2 linked regions of the Homo sapiens genome follow. The protein of the gene in region 1 purifies or fractionates together with the protein of each later gene. This does not show direct contact. Each region holds a gene or a part of one and is shown on either strand. Other genes may lie near its edges.

Evidence for each region.
Region 2: the proteins of FCHO1 (region 1) and SRR purify together in Homo sapiens (affinity purification with mass spectrometry; one large-scale study listed by BioGRID and IntAct). This does not show direct contact.

What each region holds. Positions count from the first base shown.
Region 1 is NC_000019.10:17,775,206-17,779,717, reverse strand, and holds part of FCHO1 (F-BAR domain only protein 1), read right to left. Parts: intron 4,263-4,512; coding exon 4,205-4,262; intron 3,736-4,204; coding exon 3,557-3,735; intron 3,472-3,556; coding exon 3,447-3,471; intron 3,084-3,446; coding exon 3,032-3,083; intron 1,582-3,031; coding exon 1,490-1,581; intron 1,110-1,489; coding exon 834-1,109; intron 1-833. UniProt on the Homo sapiens protein: Functions in an early step of clathrin-mediated endocytosis. Has both a membrane binding/bending activity and the ability to recruit proteins essential to the formation of functional clathrin-coated pits.
Region 2 is NC_000017.11:2,302,089-2,307,381, forward strand, and holds the start of SRR (serine racemase), read left to right. Parts: upstream 1-1,861; 5' UTR 1,862-1,929; intron 1,930-4,388; exon of another isoform or gene 4,389-5,293. Other genes in the region: SMG6 (telomerase-binding protein EST1A), read right to left, coding at 1,545-1,632. UniProt on the Homo sapiens protein: Catalyzes the synthesis of D-serine from L-serine. D-serine is a key coagonist with glutamate at NMDA receptors. Has dehydratase activity towards both L-serine and D-serine.

The sequences.
Region 1 (4,512 bases):
CCGCCCCTTCCCCATCCTCCTCCCTCCCTTGACTGTCCCTTCCCCATCCTCCTCCCTCCCTTGACTCCGCCCCTTCCCCATCCTCCTCCCTCCCTTGACTCCGCTCCTTCCCCATCCTCCTCCTTCCCTTGACTCCGCTCCTTCCCCATCCTCCTCCCTCCCTTGACTCCGCTCCTTCCCCATCCTTACTCCTCCGAACTCTCCCCTGCAGCGACCTTTCCACCTGCTTCTCCCACTGCCACCCTTACCCCCATCGCCTACTTGCCTCCCTGGTTGCCTCCCCAGTCTCTGGTTTCTGCCCTCACTCCCGAAGCTGCCAGAGGGAGCCTGTGACCCCTGAGTCAGGTCCCGCCCCTCCCCTGCTCATGGCCCTCAGCGTTACTCAGGGTAACATTCACAAGCCCTCCCTGGGCCCATCAGGCCCTTCCTGGTCCCTGCCTTCTCTTCTTCCTCCTTCCGTGATCACCCCGTTCCAGCAGGCAGACCTCCTTGCTGTTCTTCAGACAGGCCTAGCGCGCTCCTGCCCCAGGACCTTTGCAGGGGCTGTGCCCTCTGCCCAGCACGCCTTTCCCCTCATGTCCACGTGGTTCTGTCCTCACCTCCCTCAAATCTCAGCTCAGATGTCCCTTCCTCAGGGAGGGCCCCCACCTGGCACCCGCTACCGCCTGCCTTGCTAAATGTCCATCTCATTGTTGTCCCTGCAACGGTGGGAGGTTCTGCCTGCCTGGTCCTGGCTGTGTCTCCAGCAGCCTGATCAGGCCCTGCCCAAAGCAGGCGCTCAATCCCCCGCCCAGGGTTCCAGCAACTCTCAGGCCCAGGCCCGCTGGACTCACCTCCTCCGGCCAAGGCCTCCAGCCCCCAGGGGCCTGGAGACGAGGCGAGGGGCTGCGGCGAGTCTGGCAGAGGCGGTGCCCGGATACCCCTGGCCTCTGGGGGTGGCGCCCTACAGCTGGGCGGGCTCTGCGGGGTGCCTGGGCGGGGGACCCAGGAATCTGGGGAGGGGCCAGGTGCCGCGTGGGACGGAGAGTCCAGGCCGGAATCCTCCACGTTTTCGGGCGACGAGGAGGAGAAAGGGGAGGGGCTGGAGGTGAAGCCCAGGCTGCTAGAGCCTTGGGGAGGGAAGCGGGCGGTCAGCTCCGACCCTCGCCCACTCAGAGTCCCTGCCCATCCTCCTGCAGGCCACGGCCACGTCGAGGGAAGGTCAGGGGGGCCCCCATTCAAAGTCCTTGTGCACGCCCCCAAGGCTACACCTTCTGGTGACTTCCCTCTCCACAAATGTCCGGCCCATCCACTCAGTCACCGCCCACTGGCCAAGGCCCCACCCTATCTATGGCCCCTCCCACGCGCACTCTGGCCCCGCCCACCCCTACACGGACTAGTCCTCCCTCCAGCCTGGCTTCCAGGGGACCTCATTGGCCTAACTCTGCAATGGCCCCACCCAACCTCCCTCCGGCCACACCCATGCCCTCCAATCCCTTATCCCCATCACCTGTAAAATCTTCGTGGTCAAAGGCTGACTCCAGGGGCGGCCCAAAGAGGTTCTTGGACACCTGCTCCTCTGACTGCAATCTCTCTGCACAGCTAGAGAGGGTGAGGCCAAGAGGGCTGCTTCTATTTTTCCCAAGCCTCATCCCACCCTGGGGCCTTTGCACATGCTGTTCCCAGTCTTTTTTTTTTTTGAGACGGAGTCTTGCTCTGTCGGCCAGGCTGCAGTGCAGTGGCACGATCTCAGCTTGCTGCAACCTCCGCTTCCTGCGTTCAAGCGATTCTCCTGCCTCAGCCTCCAGAGTAGCTGGGATTACAGGCACCTGCCACCATGCCCGGCTAATTTTTGTATTTTTAGCAGAGACGGGGTTTTACCATGCTGGCCAGCCTGATCCCAAACTCCTGACCTCAAGTGATCTGGCTGCTTTGGCCAGTGCTGGGATTGCAGGTGTGAGCCACTGTGTGCAGCCTGTTCCCAGTCTGGAGTTCCATTTCCCCAGCTCTCTTCACAGTCACCTCCTAGCTCCTCTTTGGGGCTTAGCTCCAAGTCACCCCCTCAGGGAGGTTCCCAACCCCACCTCAAGGGAAGTCACCTCCTCCTGTCTTCGCGTCATCTGCTTTAGTTTCTTCGTAGCACTTAGAAGTATCGAATATGCTCTAACTTATTTGCTTTTTTTTTTTTTTTTTTTTTTTTTTTGAGACGGAGTTTCCTCTTGCTGCCCAGGCTGGAATGCAATGGCACAACAGTGGCTTACTGCAAGCTCCGCCTCCCAGGTTCAAGCGATTCTCCTGCCTCACCCTCTCGAATAGCTGGGATTACAGGCATGTGCCACCATGCCTGGCTAATGCTGTATTTTTAGTAGAGATGGGGTTTCTTTATGTTGGTCAGGCTGGTCTCGAACTCTCGACCTCAGGTGATCCGCCTGCCTTGGCCTCCCAAAGTGCTGGAATTACAGGCGTGAGCCGCCACGCCTGGCCCTATTTGCTATTCTTAAAATCTGGAGTCACTAGAATGTGACTCTGAGAAGGGAGACCTGTCTCAGAACCCAGACCCTAGAACAGCACAGGTACACAGCAGGCACTCAATAAATGTTCATCAAATGAATGACTAAATGGTCCCTCAAAAGCCAGCATGGGCCAGGCACAAGGGCTCATGCCTGTAATCCCAGCACTTTGGCAAGCCGAGGTGGGCAGATCACTTGAGGTCAGGAGTTCGAGACCAGCCGGGCCAACATGGTGAAACCCTGTCTCTACTAAAAATACAAAAGTTAGCTGGGCGTGGTGGTGGGTGCCTGTAATCTCAGCTACTTAGGAGGCTGAGGCATGAAAATCGCTTGAACTCAGGAGGTGGAGGTTGCAGTGAGCTGAAATCGCACTCCAGCCTGGGTGACAGAGTGAGACTCTGTCTCAAAACAAAAACAAAAACAAAAAAACCCCAGCATGACGTCAACTCCCAGCCGGGACAAGAGAACACCAGGCGGAGACATGGGGAGGTGGAGGGAGGAGGTGGGGACAGCCCCCACCTGCCCACTCGTGTGGAACCCACCTGCTGGTTCTGGGGGCAGACCGAGGTCTCTGGGGTTTCCCAGCAGCGTCCCCTACAAGAGATGCACCTCCTTCAGCCTTCTTGTCACCCTGCCTGCAATGCTCCCCACTCCACAGACCAAGGGACCGAGGCTCGGGGGTGTCCAGCCAGTTGCCCAAGGTGATCAGCAAATCAGGCAGACATGGATTCAAGCCTAAGCGAGCCTGTCTCCAGATGCTAGCTTCTCCTGGCCCCAGCTACCCCTTTCAGCTCTCACTTAATTTCATAATGACCTCATTTTACAGAAAAGGAGACTGAAGGTCAGTGTGGTTAAGCAGCCTGCCCAAAGTTACAAAACGGAGTTATGATTCAAGCCCAAACCCATAGCCTCCCTTCCTTAGGATCCTCCCCACTCTGAAGACCAAAGGCTACTCACGTGAAGAATGGCGTTTCATGGTGCCCTGTGGACAAAGTGGGCAACATCACACACGAATGCATCCAGCCAGCCTCTCTAGCAACACCCAGGGCACCCCTCCCACGCCTCACCCCTGGGCCAGGAGGAAGGATGAGGCTGCCCGCGGTGGCCCTGAGCTGTGCCGCTGCTGCCTCGGGGCTGCAGGCTGGAGCCCGGGCCGGGGCAGGCTTGATGTGCACATAGAACTTGCGGGGCTCTTCATCGTCGAAGTCGGAGTCGCTGGACGAGAAACGGGAGGGCTCGGCCGTGCGTGGGCTGCAGTCAAGGTCCAAGCCAATCCCAACACAAGCTTTCCCCCAGTCAGCTCTCCAATCCAGCCTCGTCCCTCCCTGCTCAAACCCTTCGAGGTCCTGCCCAATCCCATCGCTCACCACGCGCCACCTTCAGTCCTGACACCATGTCCCACCAGCACTCCCACCCCCCCCGAGAAGCCTTTGCACAAGCATGCCCAGAACTAACTGGCAAACTCCTATTCGGCTGCAAAACCCCAACACTGGTGCCCCCTCCTCCAGGAAGCCCTGCTAGATCTCCTTTTCTCTCTCCCTCTTGCCCAGTGCTGACCCCATAGAGTGGGTGTTTACATTTAGGTTGGCTTCATCCACAAAGGAGACTCTCTCCAGGATGTACACAGAGAGGACTGCTGAAGGTGGACTGGTTATTACGGAGAATTTTGTCCTTGCTGTGCCAACAACTGCCCCCAGGGGGTGCCAGAAGGATATTGTTCTGGGTCACATCAGGCCGGACAGTGAAACCTTCTTCATCCACCTCTGGACATGTCTAGGGGAGTCAGGGGGCAGCAGTGAGTCAGGCGCCCCACTATCGAACCTTCCATCTCACCCTGCCAACCGCCCCCCGCCCTGCCCCCAGGCCTTGACTCAGACCTCAAAACCAACCCTGATGGCAACGACTGTCTTCCCTGGGTGTGTGGGCAGGTTCCTGGGACAAACTGAGCTTCGGCAGGGACATTATTCACACCCACGTAGTCCATGGGACTTTGCAGCTGAGGTGGGATATGAACCCAGCCCCC
Region 2 (5,293 bases), on another chromosome or scaffold:
TAACGTATACAAAAAATAGCCAGGTGTGGTGGTGCAGGTCTGTAATTCCAGCTACTCGGAAGGCTGAGGTGGGAGGATCACTTGAGCACAGGAGGGGGAGGCTACAGTGAGCTGAGATCCCTCCACTGCACTCCAGCCTGGAAGACAGAGTGAGACCCTGCCTCAAAAAAATTGGCCGGGCACGGTGGCTCACGCCTGTAATCCCAGCACTTTGGGAGGCCAAGGCGGGCGGATCACGAGGACAGGAGTCCAGACCATCCTGGCCAACACGGAGAAACCCCGTCACTACAAAAATACAAAAAATTAGCCAGGCGTGGTGGCACACGCCTACAGTCCAAGCTACTGGGGAGGCTGAGGTAGGAGAATGGCGTGAACCCGGGAGGCGGAGGTTGCAGTGAGCAGAGATCGCGCCACTGCACTCCAGCCTGGGCGACAGAGCTAGACTCCGTCTCAAAAAATAATAATAACAACAATAAAAAAGTTTTTAATCCTAGTATTGCTCTCTAAATATAAATGGAAACAAGCCCAAAACAGGAATCATATGCTCCAGCAAGTACATTTACTGTTTGTAGGTGTAAGGAAAAGGGGAAGAAAAGAGACTGAGGTTTTGGATAGTGCTTCACTATTTTCATAAGTTTAAAAGGTAGGTTCATGAAGTATCCACAAAGATAAAGCAGTTTAACCCAAGAATAGCTCACCCTCGGCAGTCTGTAACTTGGTGGGGGGCGGGGGGATGGGGAAAGCTATTCCTACTACTTTCTAGAGCAGCGGGAGAAAATAGCCTTAATAATCCAATTATGTTAATCAACAAAAACCAATTTCACAGACTGGCCGCAAACCTAGAGAAGGCACCTATCACAGCTACCATTCTACACAACTCTATTGCCTAACGCAGGAGAGGTGAGACACTTAGAATCTTTCTTACTTTCCTGACGTGGCTGGAGACTTGAAATTAACTTGCAAATTGAGCATTCTCTCTAATAAAAACTGCTCCCACACATGCCAGGGCCAAACCCGAGTAGTCTGAGGTCCCGGATCCCTCCAGTGGCGCAGCTTTCGGAAGCCTGTCTTGGGGGGGAAAAGTTCAGCAACGAAGTCGCAGGCTCTTAAACCTTTCTCCCCAATTCCTTCTCTCCGACGTTAAAGCGGTGGCCGGGGCAGGCCCGCGGAGGGCGGCCTGGAGAGCGATACGCCCGGGGCCTCCACCAGACCCCACTCCTTTCCGCGTCTCCCGATGCCTGGGAATCCGGGGCGGGTCTGAGAGGGCTGGGGCAAAAGGAACAGTCACCTTCGCGGCGAGAAAGAGGGTGGAGGCAGGAATTCGGGCCAGGCTCTCCCGGAGCTGGCCAGGACTGGCCGAGCCCGACCCCGCACTAACCCGCGAGAGAGGTAGGGCAGCGAGGGTCCGCCGCGGCCCCAGCGCCTACTGCTGGGGGAAGGGGCGGGGGCTCCGGAGCCGAGGGCCGAGCGGGGAGGAGGCAGAGGAGGAGGAGAGGGAGGCGGGGCGGGCAGGCCCGGCCCAGGAGCTGGGCGGCGCGACTCACCTCTGCTCCCGGCCTGCGGGGCCAGAGTAGCCAGGATCCCGCGCAGCTCCGACGCGGAGATCCGCACACGCTCCAGCCCTTCCGCCATCTTCGCGGCTGCTGCTACAGCCGTAGCGGCTCCGCCACCGCCGCGCGCAGCCAGGAAACCACCACAGACGGGCGGCGCGCGCGCTCGCCCACCTCCCGGCCTTTCCCCGCCCCCTGCCGCCCTCCCTTTCCGAACGACGGTGGCCGCGCTGGGAGGAAAAGCGCCCGCCGCCGGTTCCAGAGGGGCGGGACCGGAGCGAGAGCCTGGGTGGGGCGGGCGGGCGCTGCGCGTGCGCAGAGGTGCGGCCGGGGAGGCGCGCGGAGGCTGGAGCTGGAGGCGCGGCGCCGGTGAGCTGAGGTGAGGCGAGGCCGGGCCGTGCCAGGCCAGGCGGGCGTTTGCGGCGGTGGCTGCCGTTGCTGTTGTCGTGGACACCAAGGACACTGCTAGTCTGGGACTCGGGTTGACAGAGACACCCCTCAGCCTGGGCTCCTCTGGACACCTTAGGCCAGGCTCTCCCGCCACAGGCCCGGCCTAGCGCCGCGGGCCATTACTTGGGACCTTGAAGATCTGCTAAGAGTAGTTGTTACTATTCCCTTTTTTTTTTAGTTGGAGTCTCGCTCTGTTGGAGACTCCCGGGCTGGAGTGCAGTGGCGCGGTCTCGGCTCACTGCAACCTCTGCCTCCTGGATTCAAGCGATTCTCCTGCCTCAGCCTCCCTAGTAGCTGGGATTACAGGTGCACGCCACCAAGCCCGGCTAATTTTTGTATTTTTTGTAGAGACGGGGTTTCACTAGGCTGGTCTCGAACTCCTGACCTCAGGTGATCCACCCGCGTCGGCCTCCCAAAGTGCTGGGATTACAGGCGTGAGCCACCGCGCCCGGCCGCCCCCTGACTTTTAAAAACTAGATACGATATAGTTGGAATCGTGTGGAAGGAAGTACATCAGGAGGCATATAAGTCCATTTGGGACCTGTAATCCCGGCGACTCGGAACGCTGAGACGGGCGGATCGCTTGAACCCGGGAGGCGGAGACTGCAGTGAGCCGAGATCGCGCCACTGCACTCCAGCCCGGGAGTCTCCAACAGAGCGAGACTCCGCCTCAAAAAAAAAAAAAAGTCAATTTGGGAATTTCTGTGTCACTATGGATTCTTGAAAAAAATTACTGCTGTGGATCTCAGGTTGACTTTTTAATTTCCCATCTTTAAAATTGAACTATACCAGAAGGCTGGTACTTGAATCTTTTTTTGGAGAACTGTACAGAGGTGAAGCTCCCTTCCCCAAGGCCTCCTGCCTCCACCTGTTGCCCCTCCACAGCCCCATAGGCTTTTACCCCACACCCATCACAGAATAGTTACCAATTATTCCTTAGTCTGAGCCGAAGGGATTGCCACAACCTCTGACAGAACTCCTTCAGTTCCTTTTACGTGACACTTTGTCACCGGAAGGTTAAGCATAAGAAGAAAGTCAGTAGATGATGGGTGAAAAGATCCAACAGTTCAGAAGAGGAACCATTTGAGTGGTCAGAGCAGAAGACAGCCTTTGCCACCAGATTTGAGAGAAATAGGAAGAAGCGTTAAAAAATAATCTGTTTCATATTGAAATTTGAGAGGCCATTGCATGATTTCTTTTTTCAGCTGGAAAAATAATGGAAAACAAGAAAACTTTCTTAGGACAAATGGCACCACCCATTTAATGCAACAGTGTCAGTGAACTGCAGATTAGATATGCCAAAAGTTAAACCAGTTCAAGAAAATTTACCAGAACTCAGAAGGAAAAGGTAATAGATAAAAACTGAGAGACAAAGATAGGAGACATGGAGAAGGGGTACAAAAAATTAATAATTAAATACGAGTTCCAGAAGGGGATAATACAGCTGACTGCAGAAGAGCAATAATCAAATAGTAGAAGAAAATTTACTACGTTGGTGGAAATTTTTGAATTATCAGATTTAAAGAATTCATGAAATACCAGGTAAAAAGAAATGACAAGAAAGACAACCATATTTAAGTCAGTATCACAATGAAAGCTGCTGAGATTTTTTGTTTTTCGTTTTTTTTGAGACGGAGTTTCACTCTTGTTGCCCAGGCTGGAGTGCAGTGGCACAATCTTGGCTCACTGCAACCTGCCTCCTGGTTTCAAGCAATTCTCTTGCCTCAGCCTCCTGAGTAGCTGGTATTACAGGCGCCCACCACCATGCCCAGCTAATTTTTTGTATTTTTAGTAGAGATGGGGTTTCACCATGTTGACCAGTCTGGTCTCGAACTCCTGACCTCAGGTGATCCACCCGCCTCAACCTCCTAAAGTGCTGGGATTACAGGCGTGAGCCACCGCGCCCAGCCTTGAATTCAGTTTCTAAAAGTAAAAATTGTACAAGTTGGCCGGGCGCGGTGGCTCACGCCTGTAATCCCAGCACTTTGGGAGGCCGAGGTGGGCAGATTGCCTGAGCTCAGGAGTTCCCAACCAGCTTGGGCAAGATGAAACCCCATCTCTACTAAAATACAAAAAAATTAGCTGGGTGTGGTGGCGGGCACCTGTAGTCCCAGCTACTTGGGACGCTCAGGCAGGAGAACTGCTTGAACCTGGGAGGCAGAGGTTGCAGCGAGCCGAGATTGCTCCACTGCACTCCAGCCTGGGCGACAGAGTGAGACTCCGTCAAAAAAAAAAATTGTACAGGTCATATTTACTTAGCACAAAGTAATAAAACTAGAAGTGAATAGCCACAAATGAAGCAAAACATTCTAACCATTTGGAATTTTTTTAAAAACAACAATTTTAGGCCAGGCCCCGTGGCTCATGCCTGTAATCCCAGCACTTTGGGAGGCCAAGGTGGGCAGATCACTTGAGGTCAGGAGTTCGAGACCAGCCTGGCCAACATGGCGAAACCCCGTCTCTACTAAAAATACAAAAACTAGCCGGGCGTGGTGGTGGGTGCCTGTAATCCCAGCTACTTGGGAGACTGAGGCAGGAGAATCACTTGAACCAAGGAGGTAGAGGCTGCAGTGAGCCGAGATCACGCCACTGCACTCCAGCCTGGGTGACAGATAGAGACTCTGTCTCAAAAATAAAACAAAACAAACACTTTCCACCCATGGACACCGCCAAGTCTAAGTCAGAGTCTCCTAAAGAGCTCGTACAGCTGAAGAAGCTCTTCATTGGAGGGCTGAGCTTTGAAACAACCAATGAGAGCCTGAGGAGCCATTCTGAGCAATGGGGAACACTCGCGGACTGTGTGGTAATGAGAGATCCAAACACCAAGCACTCCAGGGGCTTTGGATTTGCCACATATGCCACTGAGGAGGAGGTGGATGCAGCCACGAATGCAAGGCCACACAAGGTGGATGGAAGAGTTGTGGAACCAAAGAGAGCTGTCTCAAGAGAAGATTCTCAAAGACCAGATGCCCACTTAACTATGGAAAAGATATTTGTTGGTGGCATTAACGAAGACACTGAAGAATATCACCTAAGTGATTATTTTGAACAGTATGGAAAAACTGAAGTGATTGAAATCATGACTGACCAAGGCAGTGGCAAGAAAAGGGGCTTTGCCTTTGTAACCTTTGATGATCATGACTCCGTGGATAAGACTGTCATTCAGAAATACCATACTGTGAATGGCCACAACTGTGAAATTAGGAAAGGCCTGTCAAAGCAAGAGATGGTGAGTGCTTCATCCAGCCAAAGAGGTCAAAGTACTTCTGGAAACTTTGGTGGTGGTCGTGGAG